Linked DNA regions of Homo sapiens: region 2 is linked to region 1. The links come from fine-mapping of genetic effects on gene expression. A gene starts in region 1. The other region holds a variant in brackets. All regions are shown on one strand. Distances are between the middles of the regions. Region 1 holds the start of CDK5RAP2 (CDK5 regulatory subunit associated protein 2). Region 2 overlaps CDK5RAP2 (CDK5 regulatory subunit associated protein 2).

Region 1 (16,501 bases):
CTGGCCAACATGGTGAAACCCCGTCTCTACTAAAAATATAAAAATTAGCCGAGCATGGTGGCACGTGCCTGTAGTCCCAGCTACTTGGGAGGCTGAGGCACCAGAACCGCTTGAACCCACGAGGCAGAGGTTGCGGTGAGCCGAAATTGCGCCACTGCACTCCAGCCTGGGCAAGGGAGTGAGACTCTGTCTCAACGACAAAAAAAAAAAGACCACAATGAGATACCTACCATGTCACACCCAAAGGATGGCTATAATCAAAAGGACAATAAAAATATCAGTGAAGGGCAGGCACAGTGGCTTGTGTCTGTAATCCCAGCTCTTAGCAAGGCAGAAGCAGGAGGATCACTTGAGCCCAGGAATTTAAGACCAGCATGGGTAACAGAGCAAGACTGTCTCTAAAAAAAATTAAAAACAAAAGCCTTAAAAAGGAAAGAAATTCTGACACATACTACAACACGCATGAACCTTGAGGACATAATGCTAAGTTAAATAAACCAGTCACAGAAGGACAAATAGTGTATGATTCTACTTATACGCGACACTTAGAGTAGTCAAAATCATAGAGACAGGCTGGGCGCAATGGCACATACCTATAATCCCAGCACTCTGGGAGGCCGAGGCAGGCACAACACTTGAGGCCAGGAGTTCAAGACCAGCCTGGTCAACCTGGTGAAACCCCGTCTCTACCAAAAATACAAAAATTAGCCAGGCGTAGTGGGGCATGCCTGTAGTCCCGGCCACTAAGTGGCTGAACCATGAGAATTGCTTGAACTCTGGAGGCGGAGGTTGCAGTGAGCCAAGATCACTCCACTGCACTCCAGCCTGGGCAACAAAGCGAGACCCTGTCTCAAAAAAAAAAAAAAAAAATCATAGAGACAGAAAGTAGAATGGTGATTGTCAGAGGCTGGGAGAAGGGGGGAATAGGGAGTTACTGTTTTAACAGGGACACAGTTTCTGTTTTGCAAGATGGAGAGTTACGAAGATAGATAGTGGTGACCGTTGAGCAATAATACAAATATATTTAATACAACTGAACCATGCTTTAAAATGGTTAAGATGGAATGTATGCAGTATCTACGTCCTGCAAAGGCAGGGAGATGAGGGAAAGGAGAATATTTGCTGATCTGTTGAGTAGTTACTCTGGGTCAGACACTGAGCTAAACTTTTTAAGATTCATTTTAATCCTTATGCCAACCCTAGGCTTTATACCAACCCCTTTTACAGATGATAAACACTGAGGCTCACAGATGATGAGTGACTTGCCCCAGATCAAGGGGTTGTTAAGTAGCAGAACTGGGATTAAAACCCAGCTAGGCCTGGGACCCCAAAACCCAAGTGTCTGGCCAAAAAGCACTGAAATAAGAATGGCTATCTGAGAGAATAATAATGGAAGTTATGATAACAGCAATAAGCAGCATTAAAAGTATAAAGCAGCAGACTGTGAAGAGCAGATTTATATTTAAAAAATAGTTCTCACGCCGGGCGCGGTGGCTCACGCCTGTAATCCCAGAACTTTGGGAGGCCAAGGAGAGCAGATCATGAGATCAGGAGATGGAGACCATCCTGGCCAACATGGTGAAATCCCGTCTCTACTAAAATACAAAAATTAGCCACGCACGGTGGTGCACTCCTGTAATCCCAGCTACTCCGGAGGCTCAGGCAGGAGAATTGCTTGAACCCGGGAGGCGGAGGTTGAAGTGAGCCGAGATCGCGCCACTGCACTCCAGCCTGGTCACAAAGCAAGACTCCGTCTCAAAAAAATAAATAAATAAAAAATAGTTTTCAAATTGTAGTATAAAAAACTATTAGAGGTGCAAAGGACAATACAAGAGAGAAGCCATACTCCCAATATATTGGGGCAGTGGATGTAAAATAGATAGAAAAGGGCATGATGAAATATCACAGGACCCAATTAGACAGGAACTGCAAAGCATCTTAGTCTGTGCCTCATACATGAAGGTTCTCAATAAACAGAAAAACCATTTGTCCAGGTTTACCCAAGATAGGCCCTCTTTATGTCTGCTGCCCGGGCATAAATATTAATTATTTTCACTTTCCTTTTTTTTTTTTTTAAAGATAGAGTCTCACTTTGTCACCCAGGCTACAGTGCAGTGGCATGAACACAGCTCACTGCAGCATCAACCTTCCGGGCTCATGCAATCCTCCTGCCTCAGCCTCCCGAGCGGCTGGGACTACAAGTGCATGCCACCACGCCTGGCTAATCTTTGTAGTTTTTGTAGAGATAGGATTTCACCATGTTGCCCAGGCTGATCTCACACTCCTGAGCTCAAGAAATCGGCCCACCTCGGCCTCCCCAAGGGCTAGGATTACACAGGTGAGCCACCGCACCTGGCTCTTTTCACTCTTAAGTGTCCCAGTTAGCACAATAAATAACATGGTCACCCTTTCAATTAGGATCTGTTGACTAAAAGCAGCAGCTTGTCCATAGTAGAGCTGGATAAACAGTGCAGGTTCTCCGTCAGGGCTCTCCTCCTCTTCCCTCTACTCACTCTCCAACCAGGAGTCTAGGACAACCACAGGGGCCAGCCGTGGAGCAGAGTTGCGCTCTGTTAGGCCTTCCTACCAGACCCCAGCTCCACCAGCAATGGGGACTCCCACAGTCTCTTGGGGCAGGTCCATGGGAGGCCACTCTTGGCCATTATTCCCTGATTCATATCACCTTTGATGACAGTAGTAATAATGACACTAATGGCAACACAAGATCATTTTTTAAGCACTGATTATGTGGCAGGCACTACACCTGCCAAGCAAATGGCTCGACAGGCATCACCTCTTTTAATCCTCACCCCAACTCTGTTGGGTGGATATTACTAGCCCATTTTACAGATGGGAAAGCCGGTGAAATCACTTTACCAAGGTCACACAGCTAGTCAGTTTACAGGGCTGGATTTGAATCCAGTTTTGTCCAACTCTAGCCAAGGTTCTTAATCATTGCACTCCATTGCCTCCTGGGTGGCCACTATGTGACCCAAAAAGCAAAGTCTGGGCATACCGGCTACACTCTCTCCATAATGAAAACAAACTCTCAAACCAGAAGGAACCATCAGGTGCCCTCAAGGTCCCTGTTCTCCACCAATCCCCACTAACGGGATACTCCAAGTGGCCCCACCCTCGTCCTACTCTTTCAGAAAACTCCTTACCTGTTCTTCACACGCTCTACAAAGTACATGGCGCAATGCTACTGGCAATTGTGGTGCAGGTCGCGGCTCCCAGCCCTCCAGAGTGTCAGGTGGTGGGCCCCCCAGAGACCCTCTCCGAAGGAACCCACCCCACACACTGCCCCTGGCCAGACACCCTCAAGAGCAAACCCCAAGGCCGCGTTAGAACGAAATCCCACCAGCTGGAACCCCGGCCCGGTTACCACGACCACCAATGCCCCGGCCGCACCTGCAGCCGCTGAGCGTCCCAGGGACGGTGACGTCCTCTTCCAACACCAAGTCCATCATGGCTACAGAGGTGGCGACAGCGTTGGTGTCTGTGGCGGCGGCGCCACTAGTACCCCCCGCGATAGCGACCCGCCGGGCTCCCCAGGTCCCCGCCCCCTCCACCCCAGCTCTTGTTCAGACTCTGGCGGCGCCGCTGGAATTCAAACCACAGACGCCGCCATCTTTCCCGGCGCTTCTTCCTACGGAAACGAGGCGGGGTCACGGAGGCGCACGCAGTGAAGCCGACCGGCTGGCGCCAGAGGACGGGCAGGGAAGCGGGGATAGGTGCCATCTTAACTAAGGGCAAAGCATCCGTGCTTAAGCCAAGCAAAAATAAGAGACAAAAAAAGGCCGGCTGCCATTTTTTGTGAGGGCACTTAGGGAGAGGCGAGGGCGGGTGCCATCTTTGTTGAGGGCCAAAGCGGGCCCTAGTCCGTTAATTTACGCGGGAGATGGAAATGAATACAGCCACTCAGGAATCCTCAAAGTTCCTAACCTCGTGTTTGCTTTTCTAGAATAATGACCCCAAAACTTTGGGATTTGACCTTAAGTTGAAACTCAGATAACTGAGTGCTGCCTTGCTTTGGAAAAATACTACGTGCGGAATCTCAAGGCAAACAGTAATTTGCAGACTTAGTTTGAAGCAAATAACTCATTCCCATGAGCCAGTGGTCAACAGCACTCCCACTCCAGTCTCTCACCTATTGGTCTTTTATTACCATTAGGACTCAAAGGCACCTGTGGTCAGAAAACTGAGGGCCAGCAAGAGGAAAGGACTCTCCCAAAGTAATTAAGTATTGACAATGTCTTTCAACTGGAGTGGGGGTCTGCAGCTCCTGCCAACTAGATGAGGGCTCTCTGCATAACCCTGGCTGCCTTTCTTTTTTTTTTTTTTTGAAATGGTGCCTCTGTCGCCAGGCTGGAGTGCAGTGGCCCGATCTCAGCTCACTGCAACCTTCACCTTCTGGGTTTAAGCGATTCTTCTGCCTCGGCCTTGCGCCACCACACCCGGGTAATTTTTGTATGTTTAGTAGAGACGGGGTTTCACCATGTTGGCCAGGATGGTCTCAATCTCCTGACCTCGTGATCTGCCCACCCCGGCCTTCCAAACTGCTGGGATTACAGGCGTGAGCCACAGCACCGGCCCCTTGGCTGCCTTTCTTAAAGCACATAGCAATCACCAAACACTTAGATAATCTTGGCAGAGCTTAAGCAATGAAATTAACCTTCCCCTCCTCAACTCAGTGTTGCTCCTTCCTCTGCAGGCCCTTGTGAGAGAGCCCGATGAAAATAACTTGAAATGGTTGGTGAGTGGATAGATAGTGACTTTCCCAGTAATCTTGAACAATTCCCCTTTCACCCTGTTTCCTCATTCTTTTTTTTTTTTTTTTAAATAGAGACAGGGTCTCACTATGTTGCCCAGGCTGGTCTTGAACTCCTGGCCTCAAGCAATCCTCCCACCTTGGCCTCCCAAAGTGCTGGGGTTATAGGCCTGAGCCACTGCACCAGGCCCTCATTCTTCAGTTAAGTAATTAACCAATTATTGATACTTTTCAAAAGAAGCCTTCCCTAGTCATTTAATCTAAATCAAGCCACTTCTTGTATTCCTAGCAATGCAAATTATTCCTTTGTGGCACTTACCATATTTTGCAATTTGTGTGTGTGTGTGTGTGTGTAAAATCATTTTTTAAATGTCTTTCCTTGCACTAGACTGGAAGCTGCATGGGGCAGGGACTATATTCTGAATTGTTCACTGCTATATCCTCAACACCTAGCACTATGTCTGCCACTCAGCAGCTATTTGAAAATGTATGTTAAATGAATGAGTGATTCAATCAATCAGTCTGGAAATAAGGCCAATACCTATCCTGCAAGGTTTTTGTGAGAATAATCAGAGATACTTTTAGGACCTCTGTCAATAGTAATTCTGTGTATCCCAGATTCATATTCATTCTCTCTCTTTCTCTCTCTCTCTCTGTCTCTCTCTCAGCTTTAGTTAGGCTTCCAAAGCCCGCGATTATTTGCCTGTCCCCCTTCTTTCTCTAGATCTTCAACCACACCCACAATTAGCAATGATAAAAGCATGAAAAAGAGGGAAAGCTTAGCACACCTGGTGCACTGCCTCAGGAACGGGGCAGTCCTTGAAGCCCAGGAACCAATACTCCTTGCCAGTAAGTTCAACCCATGAGATAGGTGTGTCCAAAAGCAGGGAAGTTGGGGTGTCAGGATTCCCACCCTGGCTCTGCCACCAACTCTGTGATCTTTGGCAGATCACCTTTTTTTTTTTTTTTGAGATGGAGTTTTGCTCTTGTTGCCCAGGCTGGAGTGCAATGGCACGATCTCGGTTCACCACAACCTCTGCCTCCCGGGTTCAAGCGATTCTCCTGCCTCAGCCTCCCAAGTGGCTGGAATTATAGGCATGCACTGCCACGTCCGGCTAGTTTTGTATTTTTAGTAGAGGCAGGGTTTGTCCATCTTGGTCAGGTTGGTCTCGAACTCCTGACCTCAGGTGATCCACCCACCTCAGCCTCCCAAAGTGCTGGGATTACAGGCATGAGCCACCCCACCCGGCCTGGCCAATCACTTCTCTGTGGACCTCAGCTTCTACATCTGTTAAATGAGAGGGCTGAACCTCTCAGGGTCTCTCAGGATGTTACAGCTCTGGAGGTGATTTCTACATTTCTTTTTTTTTTTTTTTTTAAGATGGAGTCTTGCTCTGTTGCCCAGGCTGGAATACAGTGACGCGATCTCAGCTCACTGCAACCTCCTGGATTCAAGCGATTCTCCCACCTCAGCCTCCCAAGTAGCTGGGATTACAGGCACCTGCCACCACGCCCAGCTAATTTTCGTATTTTTAGTAGAGACGGGGTTTCACCATGTTGGCCAGGCTGGCCTCGAACTCCTGACCTCAGGTGATCCACCCACCTCGGCCTCCCAAAGTGCTGGGATTACAGGTGTGAGCCACTGTGCCTGGCTTCTGTGTTTATTTCAAAGCTACTAACATACAACCAACTCTCTCCTGGGGAGGGAGGCTAACACTTCCCACATGAAAGAACTAACTTTGCATCTCCAGCCAATGAAAACTCTTGAGAATATAAACAAGGAAGAGAACTTATACATTTTGAGCATGTCTTATACGTCACTTGTTCCAGGCATATTACATGCACCACCTCATTTAACCCTCCCAACAACCTTCTGCAGGAGGCGCTACTATCTGACTTACAATTGAGAAGACTGAGGCTGCAAAAGGTAAAAACTACTTACTGAAGGTCCTACAGCTGGTAAGTGCCAGAGCTGGAATTGAGACCAGGGCCCTTTGAATTCCAACACCTTGATTGTTTCAGGCAACCTGTCATCCCCATTTGGGTTTCTCTTTTGCTTTAGAATTTAGTACTAAGAGGCAAGGTCTACATCCAGACGACAGTATTTAAGGGTTGTGTTCACCAGACTCTACTCCTTGGGAAACTGCTTCAAAGTGGCTAAGAGGTGAATCTTAGTGTGGGCAGTTTACAGAACTGGAAGTCTGGACACCTGGATTCTGACTCTGGAAACTCCTCCCATTTATCCTGTGACCTGGGGTTCCTTCCCCTTGCTACACTTCGATTTTCATGTGTAAAATGGGGAGGACAATGCTGAGTTCACATGGTTGCCTCATCTAATTGAATACCTTAGACATTATTGAAGATGAAAGAACCTGTGAGGAGTTGGGTTGTTTTTTTAACTTATTTAATTTTTTTTTTGGACACAGGGTCTTGCTTTGTCAACCAGGCTGGAGTACAATAAGAGTGATCATAGCTCACTGCAGCCTCCACCTTCCAGGCTCAGGTGATCCTCCCACCTCAGCCTCCCGAGTAGCTGGGACCACAAGCAGGTGCCACCATGCCGGACTAATTTGTTTATTTTTAGTAGAGATGGGGTCTTGGTATGTTGCCCAGGCTGGTCTCGAACTCTTGGGCTCAAATGATCCTCCCACCTCAGCGTCAGAAAGTACTGGGGTTATAGACATGAGCCATCACGCCCAGCCTAGGATCTCTCATTATGATTAGTCCATTGCCTTGTTCAGCATGACCATGTCCCTGGGTTGCGTGCTAAACCCTTTAGTGAACCTAGAAACTGAAAATAGAATCAATTGCACAAAGGAAAGGCTATTTGGAAGTTGGTTTTCCTGCTACTGTAGTGGTTTCATGTTCAGAGACAGAGGCCTTTGTCCTGTCTCTGTCTCACCATGATCTTTCTGCCAAACCTAGAGGTGACGTCACTACCACCAGCTGTTTGGGCTATCTGGGGCTATCTCCTTGACAACAGCCACCCAACCACAAAGCTGGCATTATTATTTCCTCAGACAAGGTCATATCAAATGGCTGGGAGGAAGTAGCTTGCAGTCAGATGTTTTTCATTTGGGTAGAACCCTCCTGAAGCTTTAACAGATCAAGACATTTGCACTGCCATTACTAACAGCAAAAATAACTTTTTATAGGATCAATATATACGCAATGCTACTACTTTGCACTCTTCCGTTTTATCCTCATGATGCTGTGAAGTGAATTGGGTTGATCGCCCTACTCTACAGAAGAAGAAACTAAAGGCTCAGAGAGGGGAAGAGATTTCCCAAAGGTCACACTTTTTTTTCTTTCCTTCTTTCTTAGTTTTTTATTTAGAAATAATTTCAAACTTAGAAAAAAGTTGCAAAAATAGTACAAAGAATTTCTAAAATATTAACATCTTCCACAACCATAGCACAATTGTCAAAAATAAGAAATTACATTGATACAATATGACTTATTACAGATCTTATTTAAATTTAATCTTTTCCCATTAATTCCCTTTTGCTGGTCCAGGATCCAATCCAATATTCCACACTGCATTTACTTGTTACATCTCCTTACTCTCCTCCAGTCTCTGACAGTTCTGTCTTTCATGGCAATGACACGCTTTGTTTTTGTTTTTGTTTTTGTTTTTGAGACACAGTCTCACTCTGTCACCCAGGCTGGGGTCCAGTGGCACTGCAACCTCCGCCTCCCGGGTTCAAGCAATTCTCCTGCCTCAGCCTCCCAAGTAGCTGGGACTACAGGCGCACACAACCACACCCAGCTAATTTTTGTAATTTTAGTAGAGACAGGGTTTCACCATGTTGGCCAGGATGGTCTCAATCTCTTGACCTCGTGATCTGCCCACCTCGGCCTCCCAAAGTGCTGGGATTACAGGCATGAGCCACTGCGCCTGGCCCAAGCTGCCCTTCTAAACCATGGCCGTGCTGAGATTCAAACCCATGCCTGTCTGGTCCCACAGTTGGCAGTATTTCTGGCAGACACATCTGCCCCCTTGCTCCCAAGACCTCTTACCAACCAACCCTCAACACCAGCAGTCCTTATTAGGACCAGTTCTCAATTAGTACCCACTGCCTTCTCTGAAGAGCAGGGTGATCAAGTCAGTGATGCCTTCTGGGCCCAACATGTAGCCCCAGGCTGTGCACATAGTAGATGCTCAATGCCAGTTTGTCAAATTAACTCCAAGTCCTGACTTTTTCTCAAGATGGAAAGTGGAATGAGAAATACCAAATATCAAAGGAATAGAATATAGATTATTGGACTAGGGATGGTAACACACATCAACATAATATAAGGTTAATACCAATCTCCCAGTTCAACTCTCTGGGCCTATTTTCTTATCTGTATGCTGAGTGCATTACACTACAACATTGAGGCCCCTTCAGCTGTGATGTTCCATGAATAACTAAAATTAGCTACCATATATTAAGCTCTTTCTATGTGCCAGGTACTGTGTTATATACTTTGCATTCAATCCTCACAATAACCTTATGAAACAAGAACTGATTATGCTCCAACTTTATGGTTGACAAAACTGAAGTACAAAGAGAAGAAAGAGTTGCCTGGCCATTGAAGGGGATCAAAATATGCCATCCCAACATATGCCCCTTTTGCATAAGGATTATTTTGAGCTGAAGACAATTGAGAATCAACAGATGCAGAAAGAATTTTCTGCCTTCTCCTTTTCTACCCTGAAGCAGGACATAAATTCCCCTTTGTGAACATGTGCCTCCTCCCTGTCTACCATTAGTTTCCCCCATATATTCCCTAATCACTTCCCCATGATTTATCAGCCTTGAAGCTCAACACTCCCTTCTTTTGCTATAATGGGATAAAAGCCCTTGAGCCTAACCACTTATTTGAGTTTCACTTCTTTTCTATGAACTCTTGTGCACATAACTATTAATAAAAATTAATATGCCTTTTCTCCTGTTAATCTGTCTTTTGTCCATTTAATACACAGAACCCTCAGGTACTGAACCAGACAGGTTAAAGGAAAGTTTTGCCCCGACACCATCCAAGTAGCTCAGTTGTGAAGACAGGATTTGAACCCAGAATTCATCCAAAAGCCCATGTTCTTAACCACTAGGCCGTAGTGCCTTTCACTGAATACCTGTCCTCAAGAAGCTGGTGAAAATGCACATACATAATTATGAAACAAAGCAAAACATTTTAAATACTTTGTTGGTATAAGAAAGATAACAGGGCTGGGCACGGTGGCTCACGCCTGTAATCCCAGCACTTTGGGAGGCCGAGGCAGGTGGATCACAAGGTCAGGAGATCGAGACCATCCTGGCCAACGTGGAGAAACCCCGTCTCTACTAAAATACAAAAAAAATTAGCCGGGTGTGGTGACACGCACCTGTAGTCCCAGCTACTCAGGAGGCTGAGGTAGGGGAATCGCTTGAACCTGGGAGGTGGAGGTTGCAGTGAGCAGAGATCGTGCCACTGCACTCCAGCCTCGTGACAGAGCAGGACTCCATCTCAAAAAAAAAAAAAAAAAGAAAAGAAAAAGAAAAAGAACAGTGAGATTCTAGGATCACAGAAGGGATTGAGTCATTCTGATTGAGCAGTTGGGGAAGGCTGTTTTACAAGTAAGACCTATGCCCTGCAAAAGCAGGATAAAAACCTGTACATACTATTATGTGCACTAGCTCCTCATGTTTGAAGGCCAACAGAGATCAAATAAAATCCCTACTTGATGCAACTATTTAAAAAGCCCATGTCACATTCTTCATCCCTTGATTCTACCTCACAACAGCTCTAAGACAAGTTTGTTATCATTCTTCTACTGATAAGGAAATTGAGACTCAGAGACATGAACCGATTTTCCCAAAGTCACACAGCAAGCTAGTGACAGAGAGGAGCTTGGACCTCCATTTCCTGATTCACAAAAGGTGGTTCCTGAGCTTTTTGAAACTTGCAGGAGCCAGAGATATGTCCCACGGCAAGATCTCCTACCTAAATTGATCATCCTCAGTACGATGGCCACATCCCCACCCACTTAAATCCAGGGTCTGGCTAACAGAGATCTAAAAGCTGCTGGAAAAATTATCCTAGGATGCCAGAGAGTGCTTTCAAGCACCCTCTCCAGCTGCACATTGAATATGTAAAGCAGCAATAGCTCTAAGCAGAGAAGGGTAATTGAATTAATCAACTGTCTGGACATTTTGCAGATTAAAAGAAGTACTTAATGTCTTGTGACTTGCAGGAGGGGACGGTAAACTTTGCATCTCCCTTAAATGCAGTGAATTCACATTGAGAGCACAGAGCAGGAACTAGAGAAGGATGAACACAACACTTGTGGCAGCTGCAGTGCCTCCTTCCTTAAAGGGATAAATGACAGTCCCCTTTTCCTTGCATGTGTCCTCCTGTGTGTGTGACATGCCACCAAGTACACTGCACAGGCTGTGCCCTACACAAGCACATCCACCCAAAGGAGGAGTGGAGGCTGAAATTGAGTCCGTGCTGTGCTGGACAAGCTGTGAGTTTATCCCAAAGCAGGGATGCCTTTTTTCTAATTCACACAAAAGAACTATACATGCCAGTGACTCTTAGAGTCTAAAATATGCTTCCTTCCCCTTCTCTGTGAGTCCTAGGGTCCTCTGAACAACAGTTTAAGAGAAAGTTTTGGGACCCAGTTTGGGTAGATGTCCCACCTCTGGACTCCCAGCATACCCTGAGCTTATCATCATTGTGACATTTAGCTCTGTAATTGTTAACTTGGCTGCCACAGTGTGAACTCCTTGAGGCCAGGAGAGGCAATGTCAATATTTTATTTTCATTTCATTTTATTTTTTGAGACAGAATTTCACTCTTGCAGCCCAGGCTGGAGTGCAGTGGCACAATCTCGGCTCACTGCAACCTCCGCCTCCCAGGTTCAAGCCATTCTCCTGCTTCAGTCTCCCAAGTAGCTGGGACTACAGGTGTGCGCCACCATGCCCAGCTAATTTTTGTATTTTTAGTAGAAACAGCGTTTCACTGTAGTGGCCAGACTGGTCCTGAACTCCCAACCCAGGTGTTCTGCCCACCTCGGCCTCCCAAAGTGCTGGAATTACAGGCATGAGCCACCACACCTGGCCAATGTTAATATTTTAAATCAACTTTATTGAGATAGAATTTACACAAAATAGGTGTACCCACTTCAAGTATACATTCTGGTGAGTTTTGGCAAACTTACATACTCATGTAGCCATCATCAGAATCAAGAGATACAGAATAGCAGACTGGACGCGGTGGCTCATGCCTATAACCCTAGCACTTTGGGAGGCTGAGGCGGGCAGATCACTTGAGGCCAGAAGTTCAAGACCAGCCTGGCCAAAGTGGTGTTACCCCATCTCTACTAAAAATACAAAAATTAGCTGGGCATGGTGTTGTGTGCCTGTAATCCCAGCTACTCCAGAGGCTGAGATAGGAGAATCACTTCTTGAACCCAGGAGGTGGAGGTTGCAGTGAGCTGAGATCACACCACTGCACTCCAGCCTGGGCAACAGAGCAAGATCCAGTCTCAAAAAAAAAAAAAAAAGAGAGAGAGAGAGGTAGAACACGACTCTCCAACAGAACTTTCTTGGATGATGGAAATACAGTATTCTAAATCTGCACTGTCCAATACAATAGCCACTAGCCACTTGTGGCTATTGAACCCTGGAAATGTAGCTATGTGACTGAGGAATTGAATTTTTAAAATGTTTATCTTAATTAAAATTTAAATAGCCACATGGGGCTAGTGGTTACTGTATTAGCATAGATGTGAAACATTTCCATCACCCCACAAGGTTCCTTGGTGTTACAGTCCAAGTCAATCTCCCTTCCCCCTCAGGAAATCACTGTTCTTTTATTTTTTATTTTTTGAGACGGAGTCTCACTCTATCGCCCAGGCTGGAGTGCAGTGGCGCGATCTCCCCTCACTGCAAGCTCCGCCTCCTGGGTTCACGCCATTCTCCTGCCTCAGCCTCCCAAGTAGCTGGGACTACAGGCGCTGCCACCACACCCGGCTAATATTTTGTATTTTTTAGTAGAGATGGGGTTTCACTGTTTTAGACAGGATGGTCTCGATCTCCTGACCTCGTGATCTGCCCGCCTCGGCCTCCCAAAGTGCTGGGATTACAGGCGTGAGCCACTGTGCCCGGCTTTTTTTTTTTTTTTTTTTTTTTTTTTTTTTTTTTTTTTTTTTTTGAGACAGAGTTTCGTTCTTGTCACACAAGGTGGAGCGCAATGGTGAGATCTGGACTCACTGCAACCTCCGCCTTCCGGGTTCAATAATTCTGCCTCAGCTTCCTGAGTAGCTGAAATTACAAGTGTGCACCACCACGCCCAGCTGATTTTTGTATTTTTTAGTAGAGACAGGGTTTCACCACGTTGGCCAAGCTCGTCTCAAACTCCTGACCTCAGGTGATCCACCTACCTCAGCCTCCCAAAGTGCTTGGATTACAGGCATGAGCCACCACACCCGGCCTCACTGTTCTATTTTTCCTCATTAAAGATTTGTCTTTTTGGGCTGGTCATGGTGGCTCTGACCTATAATACCAAAACTTTGGGAGGCCAAAGCAGGAGGATTGCTGAAGCCCAGGAGTTCGAGACCAGCCTACTCAATATAGGGAGTCCTCATCTCCACAAAGAAAAAATTAAAAATTAGTGGGGCATGAGGTGGCCGCGATGGCTCATGCCTGTAATCCCAGCACTTTCGGAGGCCAAGGCGGGTAGATCACGTGAGGTCAGGAATTCAAGACCAGCCCGGGTGACATGGCGAAACCCCATCTCTACTAAAAATACAAAAATCAGCTGGGCATAATGGCACATACCTGTAGTCCTAGCTACTGGGGAAGCTGAGGCAGGAGGATCCTTTGAACCTGGGAGGCAGAGGTTGCAGTGAGCTGAGATCACGCCACTGCACTCCATCCAGCCTGGGCAACAGAGTGAGATGCTGTATCAAAACAACAAAAAAAATTGTTTTTTCTTTCTTTCCTTTGTTTTTTGTTTTTTTGTTTTTGTTTTGAGACGGGGTCTCCCTCTGTCGCCCAGGCTAGAGTGCAGTGGTGCAATCACAGCTCACTGCAGCCTCGACCTCCTGGGCTCCAGCGATCTTCCCGCCTCAGCCTCCCGAGTGGCTGGTACTACAGGCACATGCCACCACACCCAGCCAATTTTAGTATTTTTTGTACGGATAGTATTTCGCCATGTCACCCAGGCTGGTCTCAAACTCCTGGACTCAAGCTACTCTCCAGTCTCAGCCTCCCAAAGTACTAGGATTACGAGCATGAGCCACCATGCCCAGCCAAGATTTGTCTTTCAACAGTTTCTTAGGACTGGAATCATACAGTGCATACTCTTGTGTCTGGCTACTCTGGAGAGCAAGAACTTTTAACTCTATACCCTCTGGTCTCTTATAGTGCCTGGCAGATAATAGGTGTTTAATAAATATTGAGGAAAGAATGAATTAATAAATCTTAACCAGAATTAATTATCTTACTCTGAACACCCTTATCTTCCCACTGAATAGAATACAAGAATTAAAAAGGTCCTCACAGAGAACATTTAACGAAACTTCTTGGATTTACCAGTGGAAAAACTGAGATCCAGATGGATTCAGCGGCCTGCCCAAGTTCACTCTACAAGTGCATAACAGAGCAAGAATAGACCCAAAATGGGCAGACTTCCAGGCCTGTGCTCTCCTCGCTTCACAATACCAGTTTCCCACCCATTTCCCATAGGCAAATATGGCGTTTCTTCATGGATCCCTGTGGAACCATAGAATGCCAACAACATGTCACTTTGCTTCTTTCAGCCTCCTGTGGATGCCGTCCTGGCCACAGACCACTCACTGAAAACACAGAAACAGCAGCAATTCAACTTAGGGAGGTGTCTCATTTCATTTAAGTATACCCAAAACCCAAGAGTAGCCTTACTCAAATACTGGGCTGTAGATTGGTTTTCTAGTCAGGAAGCAAACTAGCTGGTACCTGATCCAATTATCCACTCACTAGAGATAGAAAAACATTGCATTTTTTGTAAAGTTTTTATTTAAAACCTCTTTTTTTTTTTTTAGACGGAGTTTCTCTCTTGTCACTCAGGCTGGAGTGCAATGGCACGATCTCGGCTCACTGCAACCTCTGCCTCCCGGGTTCAAGCGATTCTCCTGCCTCAGCCTCCCGGGTAGCTGGGATTACAGGCGCATTATCAGCACACCCGGCTCATTTTTGTATTTTCAGTAGAGACAGGGTTTCACCATCTTGGCCAGGCTGGTCTTGAACTCCTGACCTTGTGATCCACCTGCCTCGGCCTCCCAAAATGCTGGGATTACAGGCATGAGCCACCGCACCCAGCCTAAAGACCTCTTAAATAATAGGGAGAGAGGAAGCGAACTATTCATTATAGACCTTGCATGTGCTGCGATGCTCCACATAAGGTTTTCACTTAACCTTGCTGCAACCCTAAGAGGTCAGCATCAAGACCAGCCTGAGCGACATGGCGAAACCCCATGTTTAGTGATAACTAAAAAGTTATTACTTTTATAGGTAATGGCGACAAGACGAAGAGCCATCTGTTAAGTTGCCCCAGATCCTACAGTTGTGAGGCCTGCACTAGAACCCATATCTCTCTGCTTTTGAAATGGGAGGGTTCCCCAATCCCTCTCACAGGACGTGTGAAGGCAAGTGTGGCTTGCCTGTCACTGCCACTGCTCAAACCCCCGAGGGAAGGGGGAACACACAGACAGGCAGTTGCAGGAACCCAAGTGGGCATGTGTTACAGTGTGCCCTTTTAGCCCTCCTATCTGTAGACGGCTTGAGTGTTAAACCGCTCAATGGACCCTCTGCCTTTTCATAAGGGCAGAGGGCCAGTGTGATAGCTTTCTGTATTGTGAGCTCTTGCCTAGCATCCTGGAAGAATCGGGTCACACATGGGCTTGAAGGATGAATGTGGGGTTTTATTGAGTGGTGGAGGTGGTTTTTAGAGGGATGGATGGGGAGCTGGAAGGGGGAATGGAATAGGAAGATGATATTCCCCTGGAGCCTGCCCATCCAGTGGCCGAACTCCTCTCTGACCACCCCCAGCCAAACTCCTCTGGGCATTCAGATGTTCCTCTTCGTCTCTCTTTCTCTGTTGCATCATTCCGCAGTTCCTCTGCCTATCTCATCTCCTCCCCTGCTTGTCTGCTTCCGGAGCCTGGAGTTCGGGGTTTATATGGGTACAAGATAGGGGGTGTGGTGGGCAAAAAGGCAACTTTTTGGGCACGAAAACAGAAATGCCTGTTCCCACTTAGGGCTGCAGGTCTCCAGGCTTGAGGGTGGGGCCTTTGCCGGGGACCGCTCTCTTCTACTCAGTATTTCCCTGTCTCCTGTCCATATCACTTTCAAAGCTGATGCTTTTTGTACCATAAGCTATTATCTTTTAGAACCAAGAAAAATAGATTTTATGTTGATGTTCCAGTATGCACCTTTTAATTAGACAGTAATACAGGTAAATAATCTATGTTGCTGTTTGTTGGGCAGCTCATAGCTCAACTGGGTGCCATTTGCTAACTTAGCCTTTAGCCTAGGTTTTCTGGTATGTTTCTGCTTCCTCCTTAGTATACTTAACTGATACTTTAACTCTTAATTCAAAGGTTTAATGATCTCTACCTTTTAATACAAAAAGTTGAGATACAGATTGTAACTAAATAAAATTCTTTACCCAGGACAGTACCTGTTAACATTGAAACCTTTTCATTTTAACTGAAGGAAATTC
Region 2 (16,501 bases), 200 kb before region 1:
CACATGCTAGTCCCCTAGGATGCTGTGAGCTATTTAAGGACCACATATCAGCCTCCCCAGTGCCCAGCCCTGGGCCTACCATAGGGAGAGTGTCACTCATCAACAAGTATCTACTGAGCAGCGGACACCATTCTAGGTGAGCAACACAGAGGAGTCCCTGCCCTCATGGAGTTTATAGTCTATGGCGGGAAAACATGACCAAGGATAAGCATAACACATACAAAAATCACACAGCACGAAGCCAGCTAAGTGGCACCAGGTACACAGGGGCAGGTTGGGATTATGAATAGGGATGGGTGGTCAGTGTAGTCCTGATTGAGACGGTGACTTCAAGGAGGTGAGAGGCTAGGCCACACGGATGTCTGCGGAAAGGGGATTCCAGCAGAGAAAGCGGCCAGTCTTTGAAGCAGAGGATGTCGGGCGTGCTTAGGGAAAAGCAAGGGAGCCCCACGGCCAGTCTGGAGGGAGTGGAGAAGGAGGGGAGAAGGGCTGGTGGCTCCTGGGAAAGGCAGGCATATTTGGCTAAGAAGCTCAAGAAGTTCTTGTTGAACAAATCGAATTGAAATTTGAAAAGATTCTTGTAGTCTAGGTAGCAAGAACTACATGAATAATGAAAATGGGGGAATGTCAGTGAAATTTCATGGCTATATGATCAGAGCACAACTGGCGGGAGGACGTCAGGGGAGGTCTGAGAAGCAGTGCCTCCAGCCAGGATGCGGGACTTGTGTCCACCTTGGGGGCAGAGTGGGGAGCAGGAGCACAGGCGGCAGAGGCTGGATTTGTTTCCTAGGGCTGCTGGAACAAAGCGCCACACACTCAGCAGCTTGGAATAACGGAAGTCTATTCTCTTGCAGTTCTGGAGGGCAGAGGTCTGAAACCCAGGTGTCAGCAGGGCCGTGCTCCGTCTGAGGCTCGGGGTGGAATCTGTCCCTGCCTCGTGGCTTGTGGTCACGTGGCCATCTTCTTGCTGTGTCTGCATCTTCACATGGTGCTCTTCTCCCCTCTCTCCCGTTTCTTACAAGGACACCGGCCATACTGGACCAAGGGTCCACCCTGCTCCAGTATGACCTCATCTTAACTAATTACATCGGCAACGACCCCATTTCCAAACAAGGTCACATTCTGAGGTACTAGGGGTTAGGACTTCAACATATCTTTTGGGGTGACACAATTCAATCCATACCAGAGGCTTAACCTCCCAGGGACCCAGTGGGTGACTCTGGTGCTCCACTGAGCCTCTCTGGACCTCGGTCTGTCCCCTTGTAAGACCAAGAGGCTGACACGTCATCCCTCAGGCACGCAGCTTGCGTCTCTCCAGCTCCTTTTGAAGAATCTTCTCTCCTCTTCTCACTGCGCCACCTCTGATCTCCAGCGCAGCAGCGTGGGGACAGGAGCTCAGATGATTCCTAACTCTATCTTCACCATAAAACAAATATTTTGAAAAGCCTTTTGATGTCACTTTAATGGAGTGTGGAAAACACCGTTCAACCCCCCGCATTTTTAATTTCATCCTTTTTGCTATTTTTTTTTCTCTTTTAAAGCTTGTGTTTGCTTTCATGTTACACGTTATTTATTTAGTTGCTTGTCAATTAGTGTCTATTCTCCAAGCGACAAGCACATTAGCAGCTGCAGAGATTGGAATTAAAATTCGCGGCCCAGTTGGTGCTACAGTAGCTGGGCCTACCCGACTGAGAAAACAGCACCTCTTTGTCATTTCAAAAGATGACCTTCCTCTGGCTTCTTCCTGTTTCTGGCTTCAGATTTAATTCCTACTGACTCCTCCGTGGTCACCGCACGGGCGTGATGGCTTTAAGATGGATTTTTTTCAAATGCACAAAGGAAGATGTGGGCTCCCGTTAACAGCAGCCTTTGATGATGGTTACTGTAAAACAGGAGTCGGCTGGATTTGAATAACACGCTCTAAATTGCCACTCTGAGGATTTTAACTCAGACAGCCTAATACTCCACACCTCCACTCAGCAGTTCAGCAAACATTTAGTGAGGTGACACGACGTAGTAGAAACAGTCAAACAGATCTGGCTGCACTATCAGCTCCTCGATTTACTGGGTACATGACTCTAAGCAAGTGGATTAACCTCACTGAGCTTTATTTATTCTTCTGAAAAATGGGAGAATTAAACCCAGCCACACAGTGATGTTGTAAGAACTGAGACTGTGTGTAGAGCTTTGCAATCCGAGCTTCCATGTCTGACTCCTCCAATGAACCAGAGGCATTTGCTTACATGGGTTAATGTCACAGCCAGCAGGACTTTGGAGAAAAAGACTCATGAAGCTGAGGCTCCATGGCTCTGGGGTGGAGATAGGAGGAGACTGTCTCCAGCCCAGCCCAGGCCTAGATCTGACCGCCGTTCACTTCAAGGCTGCAGGCAGAAGGCAGAGGAACTGTGATAACCCAGCCCAAGCAGGGTGGCTTCAGAACCCAATGACAAGGCAGGCAACCTGGGAGAGCAGTATTTTCTCATTTTCTGTTCTCAATATGCTACTGCACAGATCCAGGCAATGGAGGTATTGGGATGACTTTTCTCTGCTCACATCCCCTTTCCACTAGGATCCCCTGTCCTGTCCCCGCCCAGTTAGATCCTAACACCAGCTCCCCTCTACCACCCTCCCCTACCCCGCACTCCAGCCCCTTTTGCCATAACACATTTCCCCTCTAACAGAGGAGACCATGGGCTTATTACAGGCGTCCACTGCTAAAATCTAAGCAGGGGCCTTTGTTTTATCCCAAGGGCCCAGGACAGTGCCTACTCTGTAAATATTTGTGGAAAGATGACAACTGCAGGTGATGGGGCCTGACTTATGGCAGAGCGGGGAGATGCAGTGAGGAGCACAAACCAAAGCAATGTTTAGGAGGAAGATATTCTTAACTTGCTCTGTGCAGCAGGAGCCTCAGGGGCTCTTTTCAAAAACAAGAAGCCCTGCACCTTGCCACAGACTCATCACACCGCAGTCTGTGGGACCAGGATTCTGATCCTCATGCTGAAGAGTCCCTGGTAATTCCAACGCAGCCAGAGCTGAGAACAGCCAGGGTTCTCGATGCAGCTGAGATGGAGAGACACAGGCTGAGAAGACACGAGTGCTGATCCCAGCTCTGCCTCCAGCTCGGGGTGTGATCTCGGGCAAGCACTCGCCACACTCAGGGACTCATTTTTCCCATCTGGACCAGGAAGGGGTTGAGGCACTGGTTTTCACGGGATGTCCCTTGAAGCCCTAATGTTTGGTAGAGGGACCTCAGAGTGGGGGTGAGGCTTAGTGTGCTCCCAAGCACTCAGGACCCTGGGGGGCCCATCTTGGCTTGCCCTAGAGCTGACCCATCTGCTTTGTATATTGGGGTTCCACACAAGATTTCTTTTTGAACAAACGGTTCCAATTCACAGGTGTTTGGGAACCACAGGCTGGACACTGGCTGGGACTTGGGAGATGCTGGCGTTACCAGCTCTGGCCTCAGGGCTTCACCTTCTCCATCTGTCTAATGTGGGGTGGACCCAATCACCCCAAAGTGCCTTCTCACCTGGGAAGTTGGGGTATTCCAGTTTCATGGTAGCAGGAGTGTTGGGAAGAAGAAAGGGAACTGGGTGAAGACAGGAGACAGTGTCTGCTGAAGGACAACTATCATCACACAATATAACACTCTAATGGTGGAGTCTTTTATATGAGAATAGATATTATGGAGCACAGTTCCATCAAATGAATATAATAGAATACAATGCACACTGTAATTACACATTTCAATAATTCCTTCAATACATTACATACAAGCATTCTGAAGTAATGGAGTCCTGGAACCATATATAATAACGTGCCTAAAGGGAGACCCTATGGGTGGTGACAGGCCTCCCAGCCGGCAGGGAGAAGCAAAACCTCCTCCAATCCTGGGCCACGTGGCTTCTCACTCTAATCTCTGAAGACTCTCTGGAGGAAGTCCTTGGTCCAAGCACCTGCCCACTGAGAAGAAATCCCTTCTACAACATCATCAACAGCTAGCAGACAGCCTCTGTAACATATCTCCAGGGATGGGGAGCTCACTACCTCACAGGTTATCTATTCAGTGGCCCCTGTCATTAGGAAATTACACACTACAAGCATATACATATCATCTCTAAATTTATATGATCAAACTTGTACTGACTGAGGCACGAGATTCATTTGCTACCGCTGTCATAACAAATCAGCACAAACCTTGTGGCTTAAAACAACACACATTTATTATCATCTTACAGTTCCATAGGCAGAAGTCTGACATGGGTCTCACTGGGTTAAAATCAAGGAGTAGGCAGGACTATGCTGTTTTTCTGGGGCCTTTAGGGGAGATTCTGTTTCCTGCATTTTCCATCTTCCCGAAGTCACTTATGTTCCTTGACTCTTGGCCCCTCCCTCTGTCTTCAGCCACTCTCTGATCCTTTCCCTGGTGTCACATCTCTCTCTGGCCACAGCTGGGAAAGGTTCTTCTCCCTTAAGGAACCATGGAATTAGAGTGGGCCTACCTGGATAATCCAGAAAGATCTCCCATCTCAAGGTCTTTAACTTTAATCACCTCTGTAAATTCCCTTTTGTCATATAAAGTAACATATTCACAGGTTCCGGGATTAGAGTATGGACATCTTTAGGGGCTGTTGTTCTGCCTACCACAGGCGCTATTTTATCATTACAATACCTGACTTATTGTGACTTCCTCTTCATCTGTACAAAGGAGATCATAATGCTTTATGGCATTAAATGTGACTATACACCTGTAGTGCCTGGCATATACATGTTTGACGAATGGCAAGCAAATTCAGTGAACTGAGGTGAAAGTATCAATGATATGATCCACTTTGTCAATATCCTTCCTAAAGCAAGGCACAGGAAATGATCACAAGGCCCACAGAACAGTTGGACAAGTCATGGAGGTCTGACAAGAGCCAAATAATTCACCTCTCTTGTTTGGACTCTGTATCTCTATTAATGCAGCCAAGGCATCGTTAGCATTTTAGACTTCTTCTTTGGTCTCAGTTAACTTAGTTGCTTGTAGTCAATTAAGACCCTAAGACCATCTCCAGTTACAAGGGATCATACCCCTGTTATAGGGAGACGAATTGAGGCATAAAGGATGAAGGCCCAGAGGTGATGCCTGAGGTAAAGATGAGTGGGAGTGAGTCAGGCCCAGGATGTGGGTGACGGACATTTCAGAACAGTAGACGCAGGTGCAAAGCCCAGAGCTGCAGGATGCCGAGGAGATGGTCTCAGGGGCCTGCAAGAAGTGTGGCAAGAATAGCAACTTCATGGATGGGGGCCGGGGAGATCATCAAGGACAAGCCCCGATCTATGGGAGATGAAGGCCAAGGCCAGATGGGAAGGCTTGGATGCAGTGGAGGAGTGGGGACTTGGTCTTGGGAGGGTTTGCAAGCAGAGAAGTGACATGATTGTCTTGCAATTGACAAGATCATCCTGGATGTGGGCAGAGACAGTGAGGGGTGGGTGCATGCGCAGGAGACAGGGAGACCCGTGAGAAGACTGCTTCCTTCACCCAGGCCGGAGGCGCCCAGGCTGGCTGCAGGCAAGCGGTGTTTAAGTAGGAGGTGGACATGGAGAGGAGAGGAGAGGAGAGGATACGACAGAGTGGAAAGAAGAAGGAAGCAGAATCCGCTGGGCTGGGGGGAGGACAGGATGGCCTGTTGCAGAGCCTGGAGGAGCTCTGAACTCAAAGACAGGGAACTCTCCAGGGAGGAGGAGGCTTGGGTAGAAAAAAGTCGTTACCCCCACCTTAAAGGTGAGGCTGGAAACTGAGGCTGGGAGAGTTCAAATCACCTCTGTTTCTGTGACACAGCCCCTTGCTAGGCAGTTGCTTGGACCACTGTCCTGTCTCCAGACAGAGGAGCTGCCTGCGGCTGGGTCACTGGCTCACTAGAGGTGGGGCCAGGAGACTGCAGGTAAAACAGGAGTCCCAGGTAGTCCCCGGGGAGGCCACCCCCTGGCCTCATCTGAGTAGGAGGCCGGGTTCCTTTCTTGCCATCAGCCTTCCTGCAACAGCAGCGAGAAGAGAGTGGGCTTCTGTGTCCTCACAGCCATGGGGCTCACTGCCTGGGCAATGACCGAGTCCCTCACCCCCTCCCCTGACTGGCCTCTCGTCTAGAGTTTTCTTTCTGCCTCCTCCCAGGGCTTTCTCCTTCATCGCTGGAATAATCACCATTGTTTTCCCAATGCCACACACACAAAAAAGGCCCAAATCTCCAGTACCTTGTGTCCAACCTCGTGTTTCATGCCCCGGCCACACTCCACTACCATGGGTCCCTCAGTGGCCTCCATGCCTTTGCACAGGCTGTTTCCTCCCCTACCACAACCCTGTAGATTCTGCCCACCTTGAAAGATGCAGTTGGCATTCCATACTGTTCCATACTTTCCGTACTGCTCTTTCTCTGTGGAGGTGCCCACACCACTGGCTGGGCCAGAAACCTGCAGCATGGACCCTCTCCTCCTCACCCCCGCCGCCAGGGCGCGCACACACACACACACACACACACACACACACACACACACACACACACACACACACACGGGTCCTCAGGTCCTCATAAGTGTCCCAAATCCACCCTGCCTCTCTGTTGCCGGCCCCTGACCAGGTGAGGACACTCCAGCCTGCACCCTGGACACTCGGCAACATCCCCCAACCCCTTCCCAGACAAAAACTTACCCGTGCCTCCCCTGCTGCTCCCGATGACACCCACCCGCCTCAAGCTGCCACTGGAGGCACTGCCTATGCCGCTGACTGAATTCTAAGCTCTAGCCAGACCAATGCACCACTCACAGACCCTAGTCCCTGCTGTTTCCTCTGCCTAGGAGCCCCACCCCCACCCCTTCTCCACCCCACAATTCCCAGTTGGCCTTTACTGTTCATCCAGGGTCACCCGAGGACACCTTCCCTGCTCACCTCCAAGGCCGAGTAGGAGCTCATTTTCTGGGTGCCCACGGCCCCTTGTGACCATTTATCACGACCACGGATCACCTGTGTGCTGGCCTGTCTCCCATGCTTGACTGGGAGTGCCTCGGGGGCCCGCGGGGCTCTGGGAGCTCTGGGCTTGGGTAGGTGCCAGCAGATGTTGAGTGTGTAACTGTGACTGTCTCCAAATACTTTCCTATGTTGAGTGTCCACACCTCGCCCACCTGTCTCTCCCTCCCACACCCACTCCACACTCTCCAGGTGGGCTCCCAGCCACTGGCTTCCACCACAAAGGAGCCCTGGGCCTGGTCACTCTCTGTCTGTGGCCCCCGACCCCACCATTGTTTTGGCTAAAGAAGAGGGCGAGGCCAGGGCGACCTTGTTCTCTTATTTCCCTGTGTCTGCCCACACCGTCGGCCAGTGTCACACACGAGCTGGGACCACATGCTGTTCTGTTTGGAACGAGAAAGTGGCATTAATACAAACAGAGGGTCGTTTTAGACCTGAAACCATGTAATTAAGCTCTCCCGTGAATGCCTGTTAACAAGGAGGTGCTTTCGCATTTGAGAGAAGCACGTGTGGGAGGGCGCTTGGTAGCCACCATGCACTTAGTCCCATTGTGATCCAGCTGGAGGGGTGAGCCCTGCCCAGTGCTGCCCTCTCGGGTCAGGCAAGGCCGGCGGCTTCCCAGGGAATGGGGTCAATGGGAAAAGAGGGGACTTGGGCAACCCTGAGGACAAAGAGGTCTAAAAGGTTGAGTCAGAAGCAACTCCAACTGCCTGCCTCCCAGCGAGGATGAGGCCCCTCTGGGCCTCACCAGGAGCAGGGCTGGACTTTGGACCACTGGCAGGAACTGCCTGAGTGGGCCGCAAGTGGAAGCAGACGCTGCCAGTGTGGGCTGCACTCCAGCCTGACCAGCTGCCTGGGCACTCGCCAAACTAAACTGCACTCACACGCAGCGGCAGGGAGCTGGGCTCTGTAGCCTACGGGCCTCCATCTGAAGCTGTGTGATCTTGGGCGGGTCACTCTGTGCCCCAGTCCTTCATATGAAAAAAGCAGTCCCTCCCACCCAGGGCTGTCACAATGACTGCCTATGATGATGTTCCAAAGACAGCCAGGCTCCCAGGACCCCAGGTCTAAGCAAATGTTCCCTATTCACTATATTACTTGTCTGTTCTCCCGACCAACCTGAGTTCCTCCAGAAGGAGGCTGGCGAAGCTTTGGCAATGTTTGCTGAGTGAATATATTTGCTGGCCCTGTCCCAGGCAGCGGGGCTGGTGTGAGCAAATCACATGAGGTCTGTGTTCTCACGGAGCTTCAGGTCAATGACAGGGAGAGGAAGAACCCAAAGTCACACAGCGGCCAAGTGCCAGTGAGGGGGGATCATCACGCTCTGATCATGCAGAATAGGGGCTCCTGATCGGGAAGCCATCTCTGACTAGCAGGAGAAGCCACGGTGAGAGCATGCTAGGCAGGCTGCAGCATGTGCAAAGGTCCTGTGGACAGAGACAAAAGCCCTAAGAGACTAGAGCACAGGGAGCCAAGAAGGCAGACAGGGGGGCTCAGGGAACTGAGGGCTTGCTGACCACACTAGGTGTGGTGAGAGGCATCCCATATTTTAAACAAGGGGGATAGTATGATTTGCTTTCCCTTTTAAAGAATCACTCTAGCTGTGGTCTGGCAGACATTTGGAGGGGTGGGTGGATGTGGGAGGCCAACTGGACAGTAAGCTGTCCAGGTGAGAGTTAATGGTCACTTGGACTGAGGTGGCACTGGAGATGAATGAAGCGATGGCCTTGGGAGATACAAGTGGAGAGAGTGGCCCTGATCATGGATGGGATATGGAGGGTGAGGGAGGAGGTGCAAGGATGTCTCTAGCATGTGCTGCTGGCCAAAGGCAGACCCTTCACTGAGGTGAATAGATGAACCCCTGCAATTTGGCCATGTCTGGGCCTCACAGTTAGCCACTGTATATCTTTCCACATCTCATAATTTTTGTGAATAAGGAAACCGAGGCTTGGTTCCACTAGAAGGCCCCACCTGGGGAGCCGGGTCTCTGGATCTGCTCACCCCCATCCTACCTGGCACCCATCTGTGGCAAGAGGTAAACAGGTCTAGCCCCTGAGGCAGAGTCCGGGGCTTCTCAGGAGATGGGATGAGTGATTTTGATAATTGCATTTTTGAGTTAGCCTTAAAATATGGCCAAGATTGAAGAGGCAATTTGGCAGGGCCGGATCCCCCAGGCAGGTTTCTCGGTTTCCACAATGCCGAGAACTTATTAACAAGATCACTCTTTCTCCCTTCCACCACCCACTTACAAGCAGTTCTCGGGGCTGCTGTGTTGAGGAATTCAATTGTGGGTCTCTGGGCTCCTGCTCTGGTCATCCAGAGACATTTTGTTGGAAAGGGTAGACTGAGAATACTTCGATTTGTAACAGGGAAATGCTGCAGTTTCTCGAAGAGATGGCATTTTGGGGGAATACTGATAATCCAAGGGACATCAGGTTTTAACAGACTCAGGTTCAAATTCTGGCTACATCCCTCAGTCTTCTCATTTGTAAAATGGGTGAGGTGGTGCAGATTACTGAGATGCACAGTGTGGCTACTGCCATCCCAGGTGAGCGCCGGCCTGAGGCGCGAGGATTTTACTCTCCAGGACCCCGATAGGGACGTTGGGATGTGGGCCTCGGAAGTGAGATAAAAGCACCATTTCCAAGGTAGGGCAAGCAGGGGGCCCTGGGCCTGTCTCCCAATCCTCTCACTATATATTTAGTCCCTGCAGCTGTTTCTCTCAGGTGCAGCTCCTCCAGCACACGTGGTGATTAATTTCACTGAAGGGAAATTGACGCATTTTCTGATTACTGCTTCAAAGCCTCCCGAATTCAGCTGCTGGTAAAATTAACTCACCAGGGACAATGGAGCTTTTTCCAAGGTCCAAATTGTCTTATTTGCAGTTTGTTCTTGGCATTAATCCAGCCCAAACAAACCAGGCTGCTCCTCCACCTCCCAGAAGAGGGAGGGCCTTCACTAGCCCAAGGTTGAAAGTATTTTACGTGACTCTAAACTGGCGGATAAAAATGCACTTCGTTTTAGATTATTGTGTTCCTGAAAAGCTGTGGGTGACCTGAAGCAAATGGCCAGCTGGGCTCCTGGAGCCCCTCCTCTGCAGCTCCTGCTCCAGGCGTGCCTGGGTTCACCAACCAGACGGGCCTGGGATGTACCAGAATCCAATGTGGATCTCTCCTCCAATCCCTGCACCTCAAGCCCTTGCCAATGACCAAGTTCAGCTCCCATGGGCTGTGCACTGACCATGTGCCAGGCAAGGTAGGACTCTTCCCCTGTGGGGACATCTGAGCCCAGGTCTGACTTCCAGGCCTTGCCTGAGCTGCATCTACTACACTGTACAACCTCCTCCCCTCCTCCCCACTGCCCCCGCAACCACACATGCTTACATTTGCGCACACCTGCCTGGAGGGTAAACACCCTGACAGCAATAGCTTAAGCACAACCTTAGAACGACCCTGTATGGCAGACGCGTCTTAATGTTGTTCTGAGCTAGAGAATCTAGGAGTGGCCAACCCGGAGATTTGTTCCTTGTTTGTGAGGAGTATCTGAGCCCCCAAGCCCGTCTCATGGGACA[T/C]GGGCTGTACAGGGAACTGAGGCCCTGAGTTTTGGGTTAAAAAAAGGTTCCCAGGTAGAGGTCCTTGGGGGAAGGTTAAGTGAAAATGCTATATAAACTGCATGCTGTTTATAAGTGGTGATGGTTTTCCTGCCCCACCTGGGCCGTGGGCTGTGTTGTTCAGCCGCTGCCACTGAACCATCTGTTTCTGTACGAAAAGCAGTTCTCCTGTCCAGCCTGCCGCCTCTGGACTGTTCCCCTGTATGTAAGCCCCTAATAAAGCCCACATCCTGTTTGCTGGCTCTGTGGGTCTCTTCTCAGGCCCCTTGAACCTGGTGCCTCCCCTACTGAGGTTAATAGGGGTTTGGCACAACACAGCCATAGAACTTAAAACAGTACTTTAAAACTTGCTTAAGACCAGCCACTGAGACAGTGAAGAAGAGTCACCGATTTGTGGAAAGGGCCTTGTTGTTCAGCTGCTTTCAAAATCTGAGGCTCCGAACTCTGTAACAGTACTGGACAAGAGTAACTCTCATTTACAGAAGCACAAGACTCGGGACGGGAACCAGGCCTCCTGCTCCACAGCGCCACACCGACCCAGCTTCCATTTAGGAAGTCAACTGTTGTGACTGCTTGCGAAAGGCACTCCAGTGACATTATGGCTCAATCTGAGTTTTCACACACTGGTACGTATTCTACCGAGGTACACCTGTGCAAATATTTCTCAGGAAGAGCACAGATGGCAGGAACCGAAGCAGAAAGGGTCTGTACTGCCCACTTCCTCCGCCCCTCTCTTAATGGATGGGGAGACAGGCAAAGTGGCATGAGGCCACTCCCCGGACTCCCAGCCGGGGCTGCTGCACCCTACGCTTCCAGCAAGTGCAATCCCGTCTCCTCCCCTCACCATCGTGTCTGGGGAGCTGGGCGCCAGGTCAGGTGCTGGCAATTCCATGGTCAACACAAGCCTCTGCTCTCCAGGGGCTCAGAGGATTTGCACAGTGGTGTGGGGGCTGCGGGAGCAGAGGTGGGGCATTTCACCTAGTATCGGGTCAGGAGAGGCTTCCCCAAGGGCAGAAAAAATATTTCTAAAGGACCATTCAAAGCTAACTAGAAAAAGAAAGGGTGGGAGGAGCATGTCCAAGAGGGCGCAGCCTGGGTTAGACTGGGGAGAACACTGTTCCGTTTGCCTGGAACACAGAGTGGAGCGGGAGGAGGCGAGATGGGCAAGGAGCTGGAGGTGCCAGCAAGGCTTGTAAACCTTGTTAGGGGCTCGGGCTTGGATCAGAGGGTAGTGGGAAGCCGCTAAAGTGTTTTGGCTGGGGGCATCTTGGTCAGAGGCAGCGATGTGGATGGCTGATGACACACCCCTGTCATCACGGGAACAATGCAAATGCCACATTCCAGCTCTGGGCCTCACTCTGCTCTTTGCTAAATCGGGAATGGCACCACTGCAAGGGCTGCTGTCCAGCAGACTGTGAGATGCTGAGCACACACCAGTGCCCATGGCCACGCTGCACGGAGGTGCTCTTCTCTGGACACTTGAACGAGCTCAGCAGTGAGCCATGCGACTCGTGGAACCCTGGCCTGTCCCACTTGGGATTTTGGGACCTGGGCTTTGAGGCGCCACACAAAACAACAGAATCGTCAAGGTGAAATGAAATGAATCATTTAATGAGAATCTTCAAACTGTGGCACTGGCTGAGTACTAAGCAAATCCAGGGGAAGACGTGAAGCCCACCAAGGCGCACAGCCTCAACTCCGGTGCCTGCCCCTGATCTGAAATACAACATCCAAGAGCTCGAGGCCTTTTTACCACCCGTTTGTGGAGCACCTGCACCTTTCTGACAACAACTCTCAAGCCAACTTTCAGAGAGAAAACATGAAGGGAAAAAATAGATTTCCTTTGGCCAGACAGCTCTTTCTTCCTCAATAAATAGGAACCACACTTGGAACAAAGAGACAGCGTGAGCTCGGTGGGGGAAGCACAAGCTTTATTGGCTGAAAGTTCTTCTCAGGAGCCTGGTCTGCTGGGACTGCATGTTCCTGGATGGGCTCCCCCAGGCCTAAGCTAGGAAAAGGAAGAAAAAAAAGGAGAATTTTAAGTCCAAAGGAGGTTTCTGAAGTAAGACCCCGACAGAGGTGAAAGCGAGACTGTTATTCTCAAAGTGCTTTCAAAAACATAGTTTGGTCAGTAAATATTTACCTAATAAACAACGATGAGATCATACTGTATTCATTCATTCAAGAAATATTCATCAAATGCCTACTATGTGTCAAGCATTGTTTGCTGTATTTCTTACTGGTAAAAATAGCATACAAATTTAAAACTTAGAACCCCTACTGGCGACAGGGCATGATAAAACACAACTTTTCATGCACTGCTGGCAGAAACAACTCTCTGAGGAGGACATGTCCCCTGGTTCCACCTGCACCTTCATTTTTCAAGAGGTCCTTTCTGGCCCTGCACTCCTCCTGACCTTCCACTGGCCTGCAGTGAAAAGACTCAAAGGGCATACCTCCAGGTTTCCTCTGGCCTTCCGAAGGATTTTGTGGGTTACGACCACTGAGGAGAGAGCAAAGAATGCAATGATTAGGGCCATGGATATCCAGGAGAGCTGTGTGAAAGCCAAGTGCAGGGAGGATGAACCCCACCCCAAAGGGCTCGGACATGTAGACAACACGAGGTCTGAAGCATCCAGACCAGAGGGAGGTACAAAGGGCCCACCTGACCCATCACAAACCCCAGGGCCAAATAACGCATCAACAACACCTCTTTGAGGCCCCGCTAAGCCACCACCTGACAGTGATGCAGAGGCTACAGCATGCTATGCCGGTTCAGAGAACACCCTACAGCTGTGCACGGCCACCTGGCTGTCCAGGTATCCCTCAGGCTCACTTCTGTGGGCCAGGGAGGGCAATGGCGCAGGGAGGGTAGAGGCCTGGGCCTGCCCAGCACTCTTTAGTTTCCTAGGCCCTCTGGGAAGCAGCTGTGGGAAGGGACTGTGCCCCGATCAGGCAGACCCACATATGAGGGTCCAAGTTCTACGAAGCCAGGTTTTTACCCAGCAGCTCTTAGAGCCAGCTCCAAATGGCCTGGAAGAAAAAACCGTGGGCATGCTGCTTCTCCTTTGCCTGCCCTTTAGCTGGTGGAATAGCCCAGCCTGATTCCTCTGGGCAAGTCACATTCTGCCTGGACAAGAGCTGGTTGGGTGGGATGGTTTCAGAGGTCCCTGCTGACACTGACGCCCGGAGCACTGTACTAGAAAGATCCCCCGTGCATGAGAATTCCCAGGAGGGGCAGGCGAGCCCTGGCTTTCAGGAGCAACTGTAAAGGTGGGTCTTCCTTCAGGCTTTTTCTTGTCCAACACAAACTCCAGCAGTGGCAAGAATGCCCCTCTTGATCAGAGTTCTGAGCCTGATAGGGAATCTGTTCTCAACAGGGCTTGGTGAGAGTAAGATCAGCTTACTCCCCACGTTGGAAATACCAAAGGCTTCTGGAGCCGCGCCTTTAGCCAACAGTGCCAGAGGCTGTAACAGACTCAACGCCCAACACACATAGCCTGACTCCCCAGTGGCTTCTTCAGAATAGGTGTCTGTCGTGTGGTGGCCTTGAGAAAATATTGATTTCTTGCCTCACGAAAATTTCCATCTGGAGGTAATGGAGTTTATTTGCAATCTGTGACACTGGGGACGGGACAGACGGTGTGGACTTTGTTTTTAGCCAAGCAAAACGACTTTCAGAGGTGGCCACTGCCCCTCTACCCCAACCTGACCTCCTGCTGCAGGGCAAAGTTCCTGACATGGGGCCCTGGATATGTTTGGGGGGTCAGTCCTAAACCCTCCGACACTGTGTGCAAATGGGGGTATGTATCTGGACGTCCGCATTTTTCCACAGAGAGACCACAGCTTTCTCCAGATTCACCAAGGGGCCTGAGACCCAGAAAAGATTAAGTATCACAGCTGTGGAGGTTGAAGATGATTGTGAAAGAGCACTCCATGTCCCTAGAGAACAAAGCTCATGGCAGAAGAACTAAGGATCACTTGGCTCAAGCTTTGAGGGGACCCCTACACCTCAACAGCACTGCCACGTTCCAAAGCACAGAAATCCCCACTGCAAGGAGAAGACCGAGGAACACAGCGACAAAGGACTCGTCCCAAATCTAGACTGGCCCCAGCACAGAGCTGGGACTCACATGTGGGCCTGCCCAACTCAGTCCATGGTTCTTCCCACCTCAGCAGAGTGCTGGGAAGAAGGTACCGACCTGAGCTGAGCAGTGTTGACCTGGTGACAGGTGGTTTCCAACGGTGGCCTCACTGAATACTCCCCCACCCTATGGGGCAGAACTACTGTCCTCGCTTTGCAAATGAGGACCTGAGGCAGCTGGTTCCAGGTCACATGGCCAGTGAGTGGCCCCAGGGCATCAGGACTCTTAGGGTCCCACTGGGATGCCTTTTCCTTACTTTCCCCTGTAGACTCTGAGAAGGTATGGTGTCAGTTTGACCAGGTAGCAATCAGCCCTGGCCTTTGCTCTTCCCCATCACCATGAGGGGACGGAGGAAGAGGAGGTGCTATGCCAACTTTCTCCTAGTCCCTTTAGACCCAGAGCAGGTCTGTGAAGTCCGCAGGGCTTGGAGAATTTCCAAGGACCTGACTCCTTGGGATGAGCTGCAGAGCCTGGCAAAGGAGGAGTTGCAGGCCCGGGTCAGCCACCAGCTATGCTGCCTGGAGCAAGCCCCTCACCCTGCTCTGGCGGAGCCTGCTCTGTGCCAGGCCTAGGAGATATGGAGATGGACAATACCAGCTCAGGAGGGGAAGTGCTATGAGACATTTGCGGCTCTTCTTACTATGAATGATTTGCCACCTCCATGCATAGGATTTGGTCTGGCCTAATGGAAAGAAAGAGGAGGGACTGGTTGAGCATCTCCTCTGCCCCCGAGACTGTGCTAAGTACAATACAGTTTAGGTAGCGTTATCATCCTTATTTTACAGATGAGAAAACTGGGGTGCTTTTTATAAAGTTGCTATTGAACCCGGGACCAACTAGTTAGTCTGAGTCCTTTGGAACTCACGTCTCCAGTTAGAGATGAGGAATCGAAAGCTTAGGGTTCTAGTCTAATGCAGGTCACATAGGAGAATGGAGATCTGAACTGTGCTCAATCAATAATTCCATGTTCTCTGACCTAGGACACAGGGGATCTGGGTTCTAGTTCTGTCCTTTTGACCGACCACAGTACTCAACCCATCGAAACCTACTTCTGCAATTTTCTCACCTGTCAATAGGGTTAGCTACCTGCCCTGTGACTGTTCAGGGCCAAAGGCTGCTGAGGAGGAGAGATGCCAATGCAGAGAGTTCTGCCTTTCTCTAGACCTATGCAGAGCATTGCTCCCCACCCCACTGCTGCTCCAAGAGTCTAACCTAAATATTCCACAGCTGCCTTAACAGGACCACAGCTGGCACTGTCTCTCTCCAGGTTCCCCTCAGTGCTCTTTTTCTCTACGAGTGACACGAAACCCTCAACCAGAACCCCACAGACATCCACCACTCTGCCAGGTTGACCTCCTTACAATCTTTCAAAACCATCCCTTCTCCCCCACAGTCCTGACCCACTGCCCACCTGGGGGACTGCTGCAGCCCCCAAAGAGGTCTTCCCGGCCTCCTGGCCCCTCCAAGCTCAGCCATGGGATCTTGTAATACACGCATGGACCCCGCCGGTCCCTGCTGCTCGTCCTGGAGTCCTGTCCACAAGGCTCCTTGCAACCTGGTTCCTGCTTCTCCCTCTCACTCATCTCTCAGAGGAAAACCCTTTGCACGTCCTAAGCATGTCCCTGAGCACTCAGTTCTCTCTCACCCCTGGGAGCACACCAGCAAGTCCACAGGGCCATCTGCCAGAATCCTATTCCTGCCCCTTCGCTGACAAATTCCTAGTCATTCTTCAAGACCCAG

Evidence for each region. PIP is the estimated chance that this variant, and not a neighbour inherited with it, causes the effect.
Region 2: its variant is fine-mapped to the expression of CDK5RAP2 in whole blood (INTERVAL, PIP above 0.99).

Annotation. Positions count from the first base shown.
Region 1 is chr9:120,576,509-120,593,009 of GRCh38, forward strand. It overlaps CDK5RAP2 (CDK5 regulatory subunit associated protein 2), which reads right to left and starts at 3,659. Exons shown (of 38, transcript NM_018249.6): 1 at 3,412-3,659. The coding sequence starts at 3,470. RefSeq lists enhancers at 3,331-3,893, 3,747-3,876.
Region 2 is chr9:120,376,669-120,393,169 of GRCh38, forward strand. CDK5RAP2 (CDK5 regulatory subunit associated protein 2) reads right to left here. Exons shown (of 38, transcript NM_018249.6): 37 at 13,073-13,119; 38 at 12,207-12,624. The coding sequence ends at 12,568. Among named protein-coding and RNA genes, the nearest start is that of MIR147A, 140 kb to the left of the region's middle. RefSeq lists a silencer at 3,841-4,049 and an enhancer at 13,437-13,937. The variant T/C (reference allele first, on the strand shown) is at 10,578.